Regions from separate parts of the Homo sapiens genome. Here regions 1 and 3 are each linked to region 2. Evidence: fine-mapped expression QTL. A gene starts in region 2. Each other region holds a variant in brackets. All regions are shown on one strand. Distances are between the middles of the regions. Region 1 overlaps MAN2A1 (mannosidase alpha class 2A member 1). Region 2 holds the start of MAN2A1 (mannosidase alpha class 2A member 1). Region 3 has its middle 34 kb from the start of MAN2A1.

Evidence for each region.
Region 1: its variant is fine-mapped to the expression of MAN2A1 in whole blood (TOPMed, PIP 0.98).
Region 3: its variant is fine-mapped to the expression of MAN2A1 in monocytes after Pam3CSK4 (Quach 2016, PIP 0.95). The same link has a PIP of 0.9 or more in monocytes and monocytes after LPS.

What each region holds. Positions count from the first base shown.
Region 1 is chr5:109,869,313-109,875,145 of GRCh38, reverse strand. MAN2A1 (mannosidase alpha class 2A member 1) reads right to left here. Exons shown (of 22, transcript NM_002372.4): 22 at 5,521-5,833. Among named protein-coding and RNA genes, the nearest start is that of LINC01848, 11 kb to the left of the region's middle. The variant T/C (reference allele first, on the strand shown) is at 3,015.
Region 2 is chr5:109,687,431-109,693,263 of GRCh38, reverse strand. MAN2A1 (mannosidase alpha class 2A member 1) reads right to left here and starts at 3,337. Exons shown (of 22, transcript NM_002372.4): 1 at 2,712-3,337. The coding sequence starts at 2,846. It overlaps MAN2A1-DT (MAN2A1 divergent transcript), which reads left to right and starts at 2,165. Exons shown (of 1, transcript NR_186543.1): 1 at 2,165-5,463. RefSeq lists silencers at 2,474-2,573, 2,984-3,193, 3,224-3,743, 3,754-4,043 and enhancers at 4,154-4,253, 4,013-4,681.
Region 3 is chr5:109,653,376-109,659,208 of GRCh38, reverse strand. No RefSeq gene overlaps it. Among named protein-coding and RNA genes, the nearest start is that of MAN2A1, 34 kb to the left of the region's middle. The variant T/C (reference allele first, on the strand shown) is at 2,223.

The sequences.
Region 1 (5,833 bases), 180 kb before region 2:
ACTGCACTGGGATTTATCTCCCTTACTAATAGGAGGGCAGGATTATTAGAATCCCCCTCTCTCAGAGCCTGGCACAACTGCCCTGCTTAAATGATAAATTCAGTTAATGTTCATTGATGGCACAATGCAAAAGTGAAAACCGATTGCCTTCAGGCTCCTCTTAAAGGTACCCCACAAATTCCGTAAGGATGAATTTGCAGATTTTACTTAAGAAAATATATTTTAACCTCAAAGTAATCTTATTACCTGCACTTAGAAAATTCATTTAGGAAGATGAATACGTGAATGAATGACTCACATGATTTTTCTGGAACACTCACTTCCATATAGCTGGTCCGAAATTATTTCAGTCCTGCATATGGCTGAAAAATCCATCCCAAGAAACACAAAGGCTCTGAGTCTCCAGTTCTAGGAGGGAGTTTCAGACCAAACAAAGACCTACCCTCAACTTCAGATCAAGCTTTGAAAGCCAACCGGTGAGGGTTCCATTTTATTTTACTGGTGTTTCACACATCCAGACCCTATAGGTACATCTTGCTTGCTAGCACTGTCATTTAGCTCTGAGATCAGAAAATGAGTCCTAAGGCTAAACTGTGAATTTAAAAAACTGGGAGCCAAGAACTCAAGTCTACATGTAAAGCCCGTAAAATAGGCCCTTCTACAATGTCAATCTAAACAATAAATTTGAAAAAAAAAAAAAAAGGCCTTTTTAAATAGCAGTGTTACAATTTCCCTCCTTTGTAGATTTAGAAATTCACAGACGGCTTCTCAATGATGTTTGAAAAAGTCTCAAAGTACTTGAAAGAGTTACTTGACATACTTCAAAGAAACTAGATGCCACTGACTCATTGCTCCCACCTCAGCCCCTTTTACTTATTCTTCCCCTCTACCTCCAGTTTTTGGTTGACATTTGGAAGGGTCATCTTGCCACACAGGAGCCAGCCCCAATTCCACATCTGAATTAAAACACTCTCAGAGTATATGCTAAAGGAACTCTAAAATCTTCAGGCATTTCCCTAGTACCCACATGCTTAGTTCACTTTGCATTTTTAAAAACCCGTCTACACACCTTATGTTTGAAAAAAGATACTGCAGTGTAATAAAGTGCAGTTTATTAAAATTTTTGAGCAGAATGTGCGAGGGGTGAGGGGAGGAGAGACAAAGTAAGAGGCCATGTTCCAAGGGACTGACTGCAATCAAGTGCACTTGAGTGGACTTAGTCACTCAAGTCCACATGTACTCATTCAGCAAAGCATCTACATAAGTAAGAGCGTGGTGCTGGGGCAGTGGTGACACCCAAGAGCATTGGTTTAAATGCTTTTAGCTCTTTGTCACGTAACACTAAACTCCAAATACTCAAGTGAGTTATTACTTCATACAACGAGAAAATTGGAATTGGTTCATTCACCAGCTCAGCATCATCAGGGACCAAGGCTCTACTTATCCAGTTGACTTCTGTCCTCAGGCTTTCCCTGCAGGGTTACAAAATGGCTGCAGCAGCTCCAGCATCAACACTTACCCAATGCTGTCTTTGAACACGGTCATGCGAGAGTAAGATGCTCTCCCCTTTTTAAGAGGGAGAAAAGAGGCTTGTCCCAGAAGCTCCCAACTAATTTCCATGATAGGTCATTGGATTGGCCAGAATTGTATCACATATCAATTCCTAAATCAATAATCCAGCCTGGAGAAGGAAATTATCATGATCGATTTAGACCAGCCACGATTCCCCCTCTGAGACCCACGGCTACCTGATACTTGAGAGTAAAATCAGAGTTTTGTTAGGAAGAAGGTGAAGGGGCAGATTTTGGTTGATAATAACTTTCAGTATATTCCACAAGGTCATATCCTTTGAGGGGATTAGGAATACAGCTTGAAAATTTATACATTCTTTACTGGCCATGGGAATTCCCTGAGAGTTTTGAGCAGGGAAATAACATGAACAAACAAATATTTAGATGTAAGGGATTTTGCAGCCTTTTATTCTGAAATTATAATTCTTGTTTCTCTACATTTACAGGTGGTAATCACTATTCATTTATTGAACAAATATTTATGGAACCCCTGCTGTTCCAAGCGTGGGGATACAATGCAAGACGGCTGCAGTTCTTGCCCTCAGAGGAGCTTACATTCTAATGGGGAAGTAAAACCAACAAAATTTCAGGTTTGGCTCTTCCTGTAAGAAAAAGGAGATAACTCAGTGAAGGAGTGGAGGTAGGACTCTGATAATGTGGCTGGTCAAGAGAAGAGGGCCTTAAGAAGATGACAACTGAACTAAGATGAGAAGGATAGGAGGAGGCCTGCCATAGGGAGGTCTGAGAGCAGAGCCTTTGATGCAGAGGGAAGCGCAAGGCCCTTAAGAGGAATGATCTTGGCGAGCTAGAGACCCAGAAAATCCTAGACAACTGTCAGTAAGAGGGAGAGTGGTAGAAGGCAAGACTGGCTTGAGTCAGGAAATAAATTTTTAAGCAACACACAAAATAAAGTTCACATACGCGGAAGGGCAGGGACCAGGCCAGGTAGGGCTTTTAGGCCATGGCAAAAGTTTCTATGTTAATCCAAGTTAATATGTGTCTACGTTTTTCCAGAATAAACAGAAGATTTTTAACAAGGAAGATTTTTGAATGTCACTTTTTAGAAGTGGGCAGGACCGGAAATAGCTTGTAATTGGTTGGTGTTAGGACAAGTGCACAGATTTTATGGGATGCTTTCAGGCAGTAGAGATTGTAAGGGTGGGACTTAAGAGTTATTTAGAAAAGTTTGACAAGACAGAGATCTGACTTCTTGAAAAATGTGCTAGGGCAGCTTTAATGAGCACATGAACTCTTGGGGGAATCTTGTTAAAATGCAGATCCCAATTCAGTAGGTCCGGGGTGGGACTTGTGAGGCTTCATTTCTAACACGTTTCAGGCAATGTCAATGCTTCTGGGATGAGGACCACACTTTGACTAGCAGGATTCTAGCAAAATGTGGCCTTAACTTGTATTTTCAGTTGTACTTTCTACTAATGTATTATA[T/C]GTAACTATGCACTCTAGACACAGTAGCCACGTGTTGCTATTTACATTTAATTAAGATACTCAGTTCCTTAGTTGCACTAATCAGATTTCAAATATTTAAGAGCTAAAAGAGGCTAGTAGCTACCACACTGGACAGAGCAAGTATAAACAACATTTCCATGATCAAAGAAAACTTTATAGCACAGCACTGCTTCAGACAGAAGATAGTACTTCTAGTTTTTTAGGATTTGCTGTTATCATGTCTTCCCCCCGCCGCCCCGCTTTTTTTTTTTTTTTTTTTTTTTTTTTTTAACAGGGGACACATATTGTCTCTACCTGCTAAAATCAAATTCGTCTTCTAAGAATTAATTATCTCAAGTCCACTTCTTCTATGAGACCTTTCCTGAAACTCAAACTGGGTGTTGCTTTCAGCTTCCTTTAAATCCACAATCTCCACTTGGTTTTCCTCTGCAATGTATTCCTACTGTATTTTGCCTGCCTAGTATCCAAAGTGTCTGAGCATCCAACTCCTGTTTCTCTGGTTGTAGAACTCCATTTTCTTTGGGTTGGGGGTGGGGCACTACTTCTCATCCATTTCTCCATGTGATTCAGTTGAACCTAAGTCTATACTCCTAGCCATAATCATTAGCACATGAGCCAGATGAGAGCCAGTGACATTAATCCCAGGACATTTGCTGAAAAAATTAGACAAAAGTGTAGATAAAAGTGCCCTTTCCACTGAGGTCTCTGAGCTGTCTGGATGCCAGTCTGGACCTGCTGGCAGCCATTTTGCCATTCAATGGGCAGACCTTGCCCAAGAATGAGGACAACTCAGGGGAAAGAAAAACCGAGAGATCCAGACAGAGCTTAGATGGCATCTCATACCTGGCAATAGCTGTATTTGGAGTGTTATCTACCTTGAACATTAGTTACTGGATAGTTACAATTTCCTATTTTTGCTTCATCTAGCGTGTATTGGAGAAATCTCGCCCTTTACAACCTCTTAAGACGTTTGTTTTCTGCTTTGATATGTGGTAGTAACAGAGTACTTGCTAATTCTTTCAACTCCCCTGTGATCCAACTTTTCAACATCATAACGGCCCTTTGTTAGTCTGATTCGAAGGTTTGTAAAAGGCATTGTGAACATATGCCCACCTAAATTTTCTTTACCAATTTTAATACTCAAATTATTTTAACATGTTAATGATCTAATTTTATGGGGCCAAAGACAAGTCTCATTATTTCTCAATGACACCTATTTTTACTAACTTCTACAGATTGTTACACTCCTGTGTGTACATAACTGGGTTATTATTATTTTTTGAAACAGATTTTCACTCTTATTGCCCAGGCTGAAGTGCAGTGGCGCAGTCTCAGCTCACTGCAACCTCCGTGTCCTGGGTTCAAGCAATTCTCCTGCCTCAGCCTCCAAAGCAGCTGGGATTACAGGTGCCCGCCACCATGCCCGGCTAATTTTTGTATGTTTAGTAGAGATGGGGTTTCACCATGTTAGCCAGGCTGGTCTCAAACTCCTGGCCTCAAGTGATCTGTATGCCTCAGCCTCCCAAAGTCCTGGGATTACAAGCGTGAGGCACCACACCCGGCCTTAAGTGGATTATTTCTTTACTGCATAAGTTATCCAAACCAAGTGCAGATTTCCTAGTTAACATGTACTGTTTACCTAGCTAACCCATGTGTACCTCCCTGAATATTTATTCTCTCCACCTGCGCCTGCCTCTCAGCTTTGAGGGGACTCCTCTAAAGTCATTGAAGCTGTGTAATAGTCTGGGCCAGCAGGCTGGAGGGTACCTCCAGATCCGACTCTTTCAACCCACCCTCCCTTCTAGATCAACTCACATGGACCTTCTTAGCTTCATGTCTGAGCTTACTCCCCTCCACAACTTTGTCCTGCTTATATATGGAATCTGACCACAATCTGCCTACCTCCTAATGGGCTCAGAAGGCCCCGTGGGGCACAGGTGCTAGGAAGGTCCCTAGACTTCAAGCTGAAAGGTGCCTCCAAACCCAGATGTAACACTCACCACCACCCATCTACAATCTTCACCCTACAACTACATTTTCTAACTACAACTGGACTAAAGAAAGAGCAATCCAGGCCAGGCATGGTGGCTCACGCCTGTAATCCCAGCACTTTGGGAGGCTGAGGTGGGTGGATCACGAGGTCAGGAGTTCAAGACCAGCCTGGCCAAGATGGTGAAACCCTGTCTCTACTAAAAATACAAAAATTAGCCAGGAGTGGTGGTGGGTGCCTGTAATCCCAGCCACTTGGGAGGCTGAGGCAGAGAATCGCTTGGACCCAGGAGGCGGAGGTTGCAGTGAGCTGAGATTGCACCACTGCACTCCAGCCTGGGTGACAGAGCGAGACTCTGTGTCCAAAAAAAAAAAAAAAAAAACCCAATCCATCATGAAGGAACAAAGAACAGACCCTCACTACTCCCCCTACCCCTTCATTATGTTTTAATACATGTTTACAAAATAGGATTAAGAACTACTCTAGAGGACCATGTACATGATAAGATTATCTTTTATTAGAGATCTTATATTACATATTCCCAAAAAGATATAAAATCTTCCAAGAGAAAATATCAAAACCTGTTGATTCCAAGGTGAACAAAATGATCAAAATGAAAGCAAACATTTTCTTCCAGACAAAGGAATATCAAAACACTTCGGCACAAGTACAACAAAGGCATGGGAAGATCATGATAATGTTTTACATCACATTTTACAGCATTTTATTTTAATCAGTATTTGTAGAAAACAAGGATGCTGAGTTCTTGAACACTGCAGTCACAAACTCAAACTAAAATTTCCAAAAA
Region 2 (5,833 bases):
TTCTGGATGCTGGACTACACAATGGTTTTCATTATAATGTTTAGCTCTGAAATGAGCTCAAAGACATTCTGGGAAGGGTATAAATCTCTAGCAGTAAATGTTTCAGAAAAAGGACCATATTCATTATGGCTTCAAAATAAAAGTTCCTTTAGTCATAAGCTAAGGTACCAGAGAGCAACATGCTCTATACAGGGGGCAACCAACCCCAGGGCCATGGACCTGTTAGGAACCAGGCCACACAGCAGGAGGTGAGTGGCATAGCAGGTCAGCAAGCATTACCGCCTGAGCTCCACCTCCTGTCAGATCAGCAGCAGCATTAGATTCTCATAGGAGCACGAACCTTATTGTGAACTGCGCATGCCAGGGATCTAGGCTGCATGGTCCTTATGAGAATCTAACGCCTGATGATCTGAGGTGGAACAGCTTCATCCCCAAACCATCCCCCGAAACCCCCGACTCCCCCCATCCCCACCCCTGTCTGTGGAAAAACTGTCTTCCAGGAAACCAGTCCCTGGTACCAAAAAGGTTGAGGATCACTGCTCTATATTTTACATCAGATCTTTCCATAAGCAAATGGCAGCCTAAACAGTAGGCAACAGATTCCTAAGAGGCAAGACAACTCAGTGGCTGGGAGCCTGGGCTACAAAGGCTACCTGTTCAAATCTCAGCTTGCAGCTGTGTGATCTTGGGCAAGCTAATTAATCTCTCCGTGCCTCAGTGCCTCAGTCCCCTCGCCACTTAAGTTTTACCCTGTAAGATACGAAGGCTAATGTCACACACATAACGGTTAAGCTTACAGAGGGGTCTTAGAATGTCTATCTGCTTGAGGATTCAGTGGCCGTCCAAGCACTTAAAGAATACCTTCTTTCTGCAGTGAAAATCCAGTACAGAAAATCTGAGAAAGGCAATCTTAAATGCAAAATGTTCCACCTCCCAGTTGAGTACCAACAGCCTTCCCCTCCAGCAGCCACTTTGACCTTTCATCAAATGCTTTACGCTTAAAGCAGAACTTCAGCCTCTCATTGAGGACTAAGGATAGATATTACAATACTGGAATTAGCTTTGCCTAAGATTTCTCAGTAACTGAATGAGTCACTCATGTCTTTAGATTCTGAACAGAGAAAATGTCAAGGTTGCCAGAAAACCCAGGTCCAGATGTTTGCATAAACCATTTTCAAGTGATCATCAAGCCAAAGCCAAAGGACATTATTTTAGAAAACACTTTAAGTAAAAATATCACTTTTTATGATTTTCCTGTAATGGAGGAAAATCTGAAAATGAGGTTACTGGAGGGAAAAAAATTACAGTAATTTCAACCCCAAAATTACACAACATATCAAGCTAAGCTTAAAACTCCTTACCTTTTTCCAACTGTTTTCTTCAACCTCATCAAGAAGCACTGGACAAGCTCTGAGCTCAAGATTTAAAGATGCCCTCAGTGCTTGTTTCTATTTTCTCTGTCATACTACCTAGGGGAAGCAGAGGCTTTTAAAATTTTGATACATCTCTCTGCAGCAAGATTTTTAAAACCTCTCACCGACAAAACATGTTGAGTGCTCTGTATTGATGACAGCATCCATAAAAGGGTCTTTTTTCACTTTCACAATAATTCCAGTAAAGTTTTTACTTTAATCTCAATTAAATTCAAGCCATTTGCTCTAGCATAACACAAAAAAAATGGCAAGGATATTCTTTGGTCATTTAAGTTATCACAAAAGAGAAAAAAATATATATCAACTTCACGTCTAGGCTTCTCTTTCTCGTAAGTCAAGTAGGAATAGTTAGATTGCCCTGTCAGGGTTTGAGTTCTTCAGGTTCATTCGTTACAGAGCACACTACACACTACACAATACCCAGTTTCACCGCAATTTCTGAAGTGCACGGGTTATATTGGCAAGTAACTTGAAACTGAACTCGCACATGCCGCGCGGTGGATACCCTTCCAAAGGGAACAGACTGTGTCCGCTTTGCTTATTTTTGGTAACTTTAAATAAGACTTTGGATGGGTCGTCTTCCCAACTCATTTACCAATTTAACCACTGGACGCAGGACTGAGCGCCCCACAGCTTTCGGCCGGAGTATAACACGCGCTTCCCCACTCGGTTCCCCCTGTCTGCCACAAACAAACCAGATGTAATAGCTGAAGAATGACGACACTAAAATCAACCTAGAGATTCACATCTAAAAGGGCCGCAACACGAAATAAACTTCTCTCTCTTCAGAGGCAGCGGGGAAGAAAAAGAAAAAAAAGCCTAGGTGGGTTCGGTTTGATCCATTTCCGCGACTCCGTGCGCTCAGGGGCTCTGGGCTGGTGCGGGCGGCTTAACCCTGTGAGAGCCGAGAACGACCCCACCGGGATACGCGGGCCCCGGGCTGGCGGGGGGTGCCTCACGCCGCGCCCGTTCCCCCGCCAGCAGGTGCCCGAAGCCACCCCAACAGGCCGGGTGCGAATGCCGGAACATGGCCACTTTCCTGAGCGGGATGATGCCGCCGCCGCCGCCGCACGCCGCCCAGCACTTTGTTAACTTGGCGCGCCCGGGCGAGGTGGCTCCCAGGAGGTGATCATTGCCGTCCGAGAGCTACAGAGCCCCTGGCCTCGCCCAGCACGGGTGTGGGGCCGCGGCGGGAGGAAGAGGTTGGGTAGCAGCCGCTAACCAGGGGCCCGCACGCCTGGCCCCTCGGAGCCCCGCGCCCCCTTCCCAGGTGCTTACCTGAGGGAAGGAGCCCTCGCGGCGCGGGTTCCTGGGGTAGTCTAAGTGACCCCGGTCCAGCATCAGGTAGAGCGAGAAAATCACCACACAGAAGATCGCACTGCCGAACACGGTGAACTGGCGGCTTAACTTCATTTTCCTCGATAGACTCGGGGCCAGGACACTCTCCTCAGCCAAAGGAGACAGCGCACTGTGGACTCTAGGAAGCAGCCGCCGGAGGCTCCCTTCTCCCGGGCTGCGCGACCTCCGCGCTCTCGGATGCGGGTGCGAGTCCCCGCCTTGCTCCGCACCTAGTCTCCGGCGCCACCACACGCCCTTGGCCTTCGCCCTGGCCTGCCGCCCTCCCCGGGGTCGGGCGCCCCTCTCGAGGCGAGACTCGCCGGCAACTGGGAAGGGGGGCCCCCACAAACTTGATCGCAAGCTCAGCGCCGACCTCCGGCAGGGCGCGCGGGGCAGGCGGAGGAGAGGTCGCTGCCCGCACTTCCTGCCACCGCCGCCCCAACTGAGTCGGCAGGAAAAGTTTTCTCGACGAGGGCAGGCGTGTCCTCCTCACCCAGGGGAGGCGCGGGTTCGGCAGCTCCCGGGCCGGGGCCGCGCAGCTAGGTCAGAGAAGCGGAGGGGAAAGGAACAAGATCGCGAGGAGCCAAGCCCTACAACTTCTGGGCGGGACGGTCGGGCCCGCCCCCGCGGCACCGGCACCGCCCCCGCCTACCCCGACTGAGCCCCTTCGTGCTGCTGCCGCCGCCGCCGCCGACGCTGCGGCTGGGCCGATGTGCACCCCGGACTCCGGGGCTCACGGATTGATGAGTTTCCTCAGAGCTAGCGTCCGCTCGCCAGACTCTCCCGCCCCCCGCCGCCCCTACCTTCCCCCTCCCGGACCCAGGCTCCGCGGGGAGGCGCAGGGGGCGGGCGGCGGCAACGCGGAAAGAAGGAAAAGGAGAGCAGGGAGGAAAGGACCGTCCCCGGAGAGAAGCCCGCTCCAGCTGCAGCCGCTAGCCCCCTCCCTCTTTCCCGCCCCACAAACGCGGAGATGGCGGCGGAAGCGGCGAAAGGAAGCGCCGGTTCTCCAGCGCCACTTGGCGCTCCAGCACCGCCCGCCACGAGCAGGAGGAGACAGCGGCGGCGCAGCAGCCGCTGGGTCAATAGGCGCCCGCAGCGCCTGAGCCGAGCGGGCGGCTGGCCCCGCCCCCTCCCGACGCTCCGAGATGAGGGGGCGGGCCCCACGGCGCCCAATCACAGCGCGTCGCCCGGCGGACCCGCCCCGCGCCTGCCTCCCAGTGTCCCGGCGATAGGAAGACCTCACAGGGCTCTTGTGACCTGGCAGGCAGCTTTCTGGGAGTTGAGGCCTTCGGGGGCGTTCAGGCGCCAGCACCCCCACGTCCAACAGGGGTTGAGCTTACACCCCACTTCCCTTTGTTGCTCAGGTTTCCTATCCTAGGACACTCGGGCCTGGCGTGCCTGGAAGAGTACTTGGTGACGGGCTGGAGGAAATGCAAGAGAAGAGGGCTTGCACATTCTCTTCGGGCTCACTATTTCCTCCTTTGGTGACAGCCTGTTAAAACCTGGGGGAAAGGAGACTGACAAAGGGCCGTCCAGGCACATGTAGAAACATCTGACTACGAAATCCATGAGTGTAATCTGAGAAGTGATGCTTCTGCCAGTTATTGATTTATTGCCTCTCAGCTCCAAATTCGCCCTTTTTGACTGCACTGTAAAAACGGATCTGAGCCTTTTAAACAGTTTTTCGTTTGCCTTCTGGGACTGAAGCTTTATCAGCAGAGGGCGCTGAAGAGACATTACAGAAAAAAAGGATTTTGCTTCCTGATTTCTGTGTATTGATAAGCTTTTGCAGCATACCTGGCTTTCTCCACTGCCAAGGTCCTATAGTGCTCAGTAACTAGCAATTTCCTCTCACATGCCCAACTCTAGGAGCTTTGTAGAGGAGGTGAGACACTACCCCATGAATAACTTCCCTGGCACCCTAGAGGCATTTGCAGCAAGTTGCAGAGGGCACATCTTCCACAAGCTTTGCAGACGTAGCCCAATGGTGACTTCTCTGCCATTCAGTGAGCCAGGTCATGCCCTCTCCAAAAACGTCTAGATCTTAGCCCTGGGAGGAATTGGGGAGGTTCTTCATTGGGCACTCTGTCTCTCAACCCAAGAGTTAGTTATAAGGTTAGCTCCTTATAGCTGCTGTTGCTATATTCTTTAAAGTTCTCTTCTTGCTAGTGAATCCTTCATTACTCTAATCCTCTATTATAGTTAACAATTCTTTTTATTAAGCCTTCCCTGTCCCGGGAGTAGTCCCAAGAAATAGACCTGCAAAGATGGGATTAAAGGTCAGTTTGATTGAGGTTTTGAGCTTTAGCTCCTTGCCAAAGGGAAATGTAATTCATGACATGCTGGGCATCTCAATTAAGCAATTACCTGTGGTTGATCCTGATGAAGTGCCAACTGAAGCCTGTGCCTTGGGGCCCCAAGTGGCTGCTACACTTGACTGCTATGGTTATAAAGATGACTAGAAAGACTGGTGTGGGATGGATTCTTTTGCGTGCTTTTGAGTGGTTATAAAGAGAAATGACAAGCACAGGTTTTTTAACTCTCAGAGTTATGGTATGAGAACCAGAGATATTCTGCAGAATTCCAAAAGCTCTGGTTTATTGTAGCAACAAGAATTATGCTGAGAATCAAACAAAATTTTAATTTTCATGTTACTGAATTATAACTGCTATTAAATTCACACATATTCTGAGTTTTTCGTGTAAAATGGTGTTATTTTTTAATAATAGAATCTCAATACTTGAAATGGGTTGGACCCAGATGAAACCGACAATCTTAAACACGCCAACTCTTTCTCTTATCAGTGGAAGTAGGTTGCCCTCCAGTGTCTAAAGAGACTAGCCTTGCTTGAAAACCTTGACTATAGAGGATGCCACTATCTAGATGGGCTCCCTGATTTCAATGGGGATGACACGATCTCAGAATAGCAGAAACCAGGCAGCACATAACCAACAAAGACAAGGTGGGCGCACATGTACCTTAAAGGGCAGCAGGAAATCAGACTGCCTTGGCTTACGGAGCTGCTCTGAGAACAAAATAGATAGGCAGTTGAAATAGATTAT
Region 3 (5,833 bases), 34 kb after region 2:
CTTTTGAAATAGTTTTATGAGACCTGAAAGAATACTCCAGATTTTAAAATTTCTGAAGGTTCTAATAAACTGTAGCATTGTTTAATGTTGGTCATACTTATTACCCAAAAGACTACTAGGTGAGGAGATAACCATGGTACTATTATCATGCATTTACATCAACTACTTTTACATTAACCTATATTTTTCCATCAGTATTAGATATGAAAATGTAGGCACAACTGAGTAAACATATAAAATGATGAGGCATTTGTTAAAACATGGTATAAATTTACTTCTCACTAAATCCTATCACATATTTTTCCTTAAAAACATAATGATTAGAAGTCATTGTTTATCTGTGGGATCTTGATATTACTTTAAGCTCTTGAAGAGCCTAGCAAAGATGTGACCTCTGTCCTAAGTTTTATATTTCAAATTCCTCTAAGAGGGATAAAAATGACTTCAAGATCTGGCCACTATTTCTCAGCTGTCAAAAATGTCTTTTTTTCTGGTGGTAGAGAAATATCATATTGCACTGTTTTGTTTCAAGGTCATCTGTCAAGAGTCTCAATTTACCTGCAAGTCTTGATGGATCTTAAACATCAATAAATGACCCATTTCTACCTTGCAATATAAAACTGAGTCTATTCTTGTGTCATCTAATAAGACTATGAGTGCTTTTTTAGCAGCATTGGCAGTAAATACTCAAAAACATCGCATCTAATTCTTTTTTCTTTCTCTCTGGAGAGAGGACTAAGATGTCTCCTCCTAAGGAATATGAACTCTCTGGCATCATCTCTTTGTCAAACAGTTCACCTCATAATGAAGCAATAACCTTTCTATATACAGAATCTTTAAAAAAAAAAAAAAAGTGTGTCCCTATTGCGAGAGAGGCACTATCTCTGCCTGGATTGTCCATAAGGCATCCCTTTGTGTGCTTCCTCTCTATTCTCACAGAATGTAAAGCATTATTTCACACTGATATACCAAACAACCATCTGGACCACACAGTCGTGGGTAGTTTATTAAAGGGAAGTTTTTAAAAAGGAAACGACAAGAACCCATTTTATTCTTTACATTGTAAGCATAAGAACATCAAATGTCAATGAATTTATTTTTGTGTGATCCTGAGTACCTCTTTGCTGTTGTATGGAACATTCAACATTTCTTTTTGCCCAGGAAGCCTAAATAGGTTAGTATATAACCGGATAAGTTATTTAATATGTTTTCCATAATTATCATTGATGCTAATTGTTACAACATTTTGTCAAGGCACTATATTTTAAGTAAACTGGCTCTCTCCATCATATCCCCCTCCATGCCATTATCTTTTATCCAACAGAGAGCCAGAAAATTCATTTATTTATTTATTCAGCCATCAAAAATATTTGTGGAGTACTTTCTACATGCAAGGCACTCTTCTTAGTGTTAGAGAGTATTCAAAGAAGTTATTTTTTAAAAAAAAAAAAAACCCTTGCTTTCAAGGACCCTAGGCTTTGATAGAGACAGTAAGATGTGCTTTCAAAAACCCACAGTAGAAAGCAATGCTATTTGAGTGGTAAAGGGAAGGCAAATATGTATTGATCATCTAAGTGCATTCACATGTGATCTCATATAATTCTTACAGCAATCCACCCCCAGGAGTATTATTATCATCCCCTTTTTTTAAAGATAAAAAATGAAAGAACTTCCTGAAGGTCATAGGATTTTAAAGTGGATCTCTCTGAGTCCAAAGCTCATGCTCAGTCTGGCAGGAATACAGGCTCAAACTTTCAGGAAAGGAGAAGGCCTATGCTGATGTGGTCGGGGACACCAAGGCTGGAAAGAGAAGTGAGGTTTGGAGAGAAGGTATTCCAGGAATAAGGCACAGGGAAAGAAGTGGGGTGGGAGAGAGAAGAACTCACTTGAGGAACAGCAAGAAATAGTGCAGACAAGTAGTGGAAAATCAGGCTAGAACTAGTAGCTTTGGGCTCGAGGAGTAAGACCATTTAGTGGTGAACTGTGAAGATTACAGTTTTTTCTGCAACCGGCAGTTCTACTGGAACATTCTGATCAAGGACATGGGATAAAGAATGTCATTTTTCAAAAAAAAATTCTGCCAGTAGAGTACAAAAGCATGACAGAAGGAAGAGATACAATCTATTCCATCATTCCTGGTGCAAGCCACATTTCTGGGTTGGCCCAGGAAGCTGCCAGTCATGCTTCCTGTGGTTTGCGGTGAACATGTTCATTCCTTCTTG[T/C]GTGAAACTGGCAGTTCCTTCTTAGGTCTAAATGTGTCATGTGGAAGTGCTCCCATGGCGACACGAAAAGAGAAGCAAGGCAAGAAAAAGAGTCAAACTTGTTTTGCTGTAATTCAAATAATAATTTTACTCCCTGAGTAAGCTCAGTTTTTTCATGCATTTCTTTTTATAGTAAGGCCAATGTTTATTCTGGCCATGAAAGGAGGAGAGAGTCTGGGGTCATTGCCACTTCATAAATACCCTTCACAAAAGCATACCTAATAAAATTTCTAGATGGTCTAGATGGAAAGGGTCAGAAGGGTGGCAACCAGCTTAAAAGGCAATGGCATTACTGAAGTTTCTGTAGCATACTAATTGAGGTTGATGGTAGGAGTTCAGTGCTAGGAGACATAGATACGTCCAGATATTGCAGGAGTGCCCAAACCCTGAACCTAAACCACTCTCAATTTTCCTTTATCATAGGGTATTCCTGCCAATTGTGTATTAGAGTCACCTGGAGAGTTTTGAAAATATACCCATATCCAGGCCCCACCACCAAGAGGTTCTGAATTACTTGATCTTTGGGCATTCCTCCCCATCAACACCTCACCCCATTTCTAAAATGAGGTTTAATTTACACAGGGTAGTACACATAGATTTTTGGTCTAAAGTTTGATGAACGGGTGCAGTTTTTTAAACTTAGATGCCATAAAATTCAGAGATGAACATTCTTTGACCTTCAATTTGCAGGCTGAATTCTATAAGGATAGGGGAAATTCGGAGATGTAGCAGAAATGGAAATAATTGTTCAAATTACCTTTAAAGGGTATGTTGGCCTGCACTTACTCAGACAGTACAGTTTGGCAATGCTCACTATATATAATCCTTTTCATTTTATGTTATGTATGCTGAAACACTGGATTCACACTGCACATCAGTTAACTCTGGGAAGACAGTGCATCAGGAGGCCAGAAGATTCTTTCCCTTTGTGAGTCATATCACCGACATAACCTGAAAGCTTGTTATAGAGGAGCCAGATTGTATAAAAAAGTGAGTCCAGAGGGCTGTTTTTGGTGGTACAATCTTGGCCCCAATGCTTTAATAAAGACCCTTGGGTGATCCTGTTATTATGCTTGGAAACAATGGAAAAGGGAGCTCACAGGGGATTCTGGCAGCAACAGCATGTCTAAAGGCAAAAGCCTTGCCTTGTTTTGTGCTTCCAAACATAAGATCATCTGCATGGAAATATACCAGGGAGTATGAAGGAATCAAACCCAGAAAAGCATTAAGGTAGGGAAAATAGAACGAGGAACTTAGGACATTGTTTGATTGCCTTGTCACAATTAAAACTGCTTTGGAAACACTCATAAGGGAGAAGAGCAAGAATTTCATTGTTATGAAAAGAGTGATTTTGGTAAACATGCAAGCAATTAAACATGCAAGATATAACTTTATTGTCTGATGTTTATTCCTGGCATTCTTTCTGGTAGAACTGATGACACACTAAAACCTAATTTCTGGAACCAGTTTTTGAAAGCTCAGATTTTAAATTCTTATTGGTTATTGACAATGAGCAAACTCTTAACAAAGCATAGAAACCACACAGGATTTCCATTTCAACATTAGGCCTGGAAAAATATTGTCATAATTTTAACATTCTAATTTCAAAGGGATGGTAAAAATGAGTGAATAAATTTTATATGTAAGTTATCTAAAAGGAAGATGTTAATATTTGGAAATGTAGGCATACCAACAAAACACATATTCATTTCCCCTCAGTGCCTATATATAATTTACTATAGTTTCACCTAGTTTGCCATACTAGGCCAGGCTCTGAGAAAATTTCCTGACATGAATTATCTCATATAACACAACACTTTTATGGTGTTGGTCCTGTTTTTACTATTCCCTGTGTTACAGATGAAAGAACTGAGAAGTTAAATAACAATTCCAAGGTCACCTACCTAGCAGAGGCAGATGCAGGACTGGACTCCAGGCAGTGCTATTTCAGACCCAGGGAGAAGCACAGAATTAATATGTCAAGTTCCCTCAATCATGTGCAATATACAGCATCAGAAATATACTTCATGGCCCCCACTGGAGCCTGTTCAGAGGCAGGATAGGGAAGTCAGGGATTTGAAGCTCAACCCTGGCCTCACCTCCCCTCACCCTCTAGGGCTTCGTCAATCCTCACAAGAAGTATCAAACAATGAGGTAGGTTTTTTTTTTTCTTCATCCCCTCTCTTCCCTTCGGGCAGCAGGTTCAAAGTGACCAGAAGGACAGTCGTAGCTGTAGACAAGGATGGCAGTTGCGGTGGTTCCCCTCTGCGTATGACCCTGGAAAGCAGAGGATGATTCAGAACAGTGTCAGCAGCAGGCCCCGGGGAGGTGGCTGTGCCTGGGCTTGGATGAGTGATTCTGAGGAGGCCTCTCTGTCTCTGCTGTGATTTGTCCCTGTGCCCTTAAACCCACTATTCAATTTTTGGACCAAAGGACTGTTTCTGGAGAAATAATAGTGAGATGTAATACTAACTGCAGGTGTTGTTCTAAGCACTTCACATTTATAACTCCTTTCATCCTCGTTAAAAAACCTGTGAGGTAGGTAATAGGGTCACCAGCTCATCCCTGTTTGCTTAGGACTTTCCTGATTTCAGCACTGAAAGTCCTGTCACAGACAAACTGGGATGGTTTGTCACTTCAGGGAGGTACTGTTCCCTATAAAAGATAACAGAGGCCAAGAGAAGCACAGTGACTTGCTCAAGAACACAGCATTAGCAAGTGCAGAGCCAGGATTAAAGCCAGATAGTCCTACTCCAGAGCCTGCACATAACCAATAATAATATATAAATATACTTTCTTGAGGACAGGGGAAACTTAAGGATGGACCAATAACAATGATGATAATATCATCCCAAAGACATTTGAGCCAGGAAATCAGAGAAGAGAAGAGGTTACTGGGAAACTGTGCTAGTCAGGCCCTTTGTTGACATTGTGTCACTGAACTCTGACAACCCTGAGTGTTAGTGGGTATTATTTCTGTTTTGAGGATGAAGAAACAGAAATTCAGGAAAGGTGAGTTTTGCTTACAATCATAGAGGTAGATTTCAACTAACTCTTGTTGTTTCTGAAGTCAATGATACTTCATTGCGTCTGTCTACTTTTAACAAGAACTAACATTTGTGGAGCACTTTATAGTCTAGAAAGCCCTGTCACATGCACCAACTCCTTTGATCCTCGGGAGCCCACCTGAGGTGAGCATAGCAGTAACAACATTTTCACTTACACATGAAGGCACTGTGGATCTGAGAGGCCGTGTGTTCTCTGAGGTCACAAGGATATCATGTGGCTGAATTGAGACTAGAAACCAGGTTTTCTGAAAAGCTAAAATTCCTTTATTCTTTCTTCCTAACCTTATTAGAATATATCCTATAGGATATGAGTGAGCAAGGGGGCAATACAGTGGATAGTGAACTCTAGTTCCAGGAATAAAAGAACGATAGAAGTCGTAGGCGAGGAGGCAATTAACCATGGGAACTTCTAAATAGGCAAATAGGAGCAAGGAGGGAAGAGGCCTTGACTTTTTGACATTTTGGCAAAGATCAGAACAACTAGCACACACTGTGTAAAAAAAA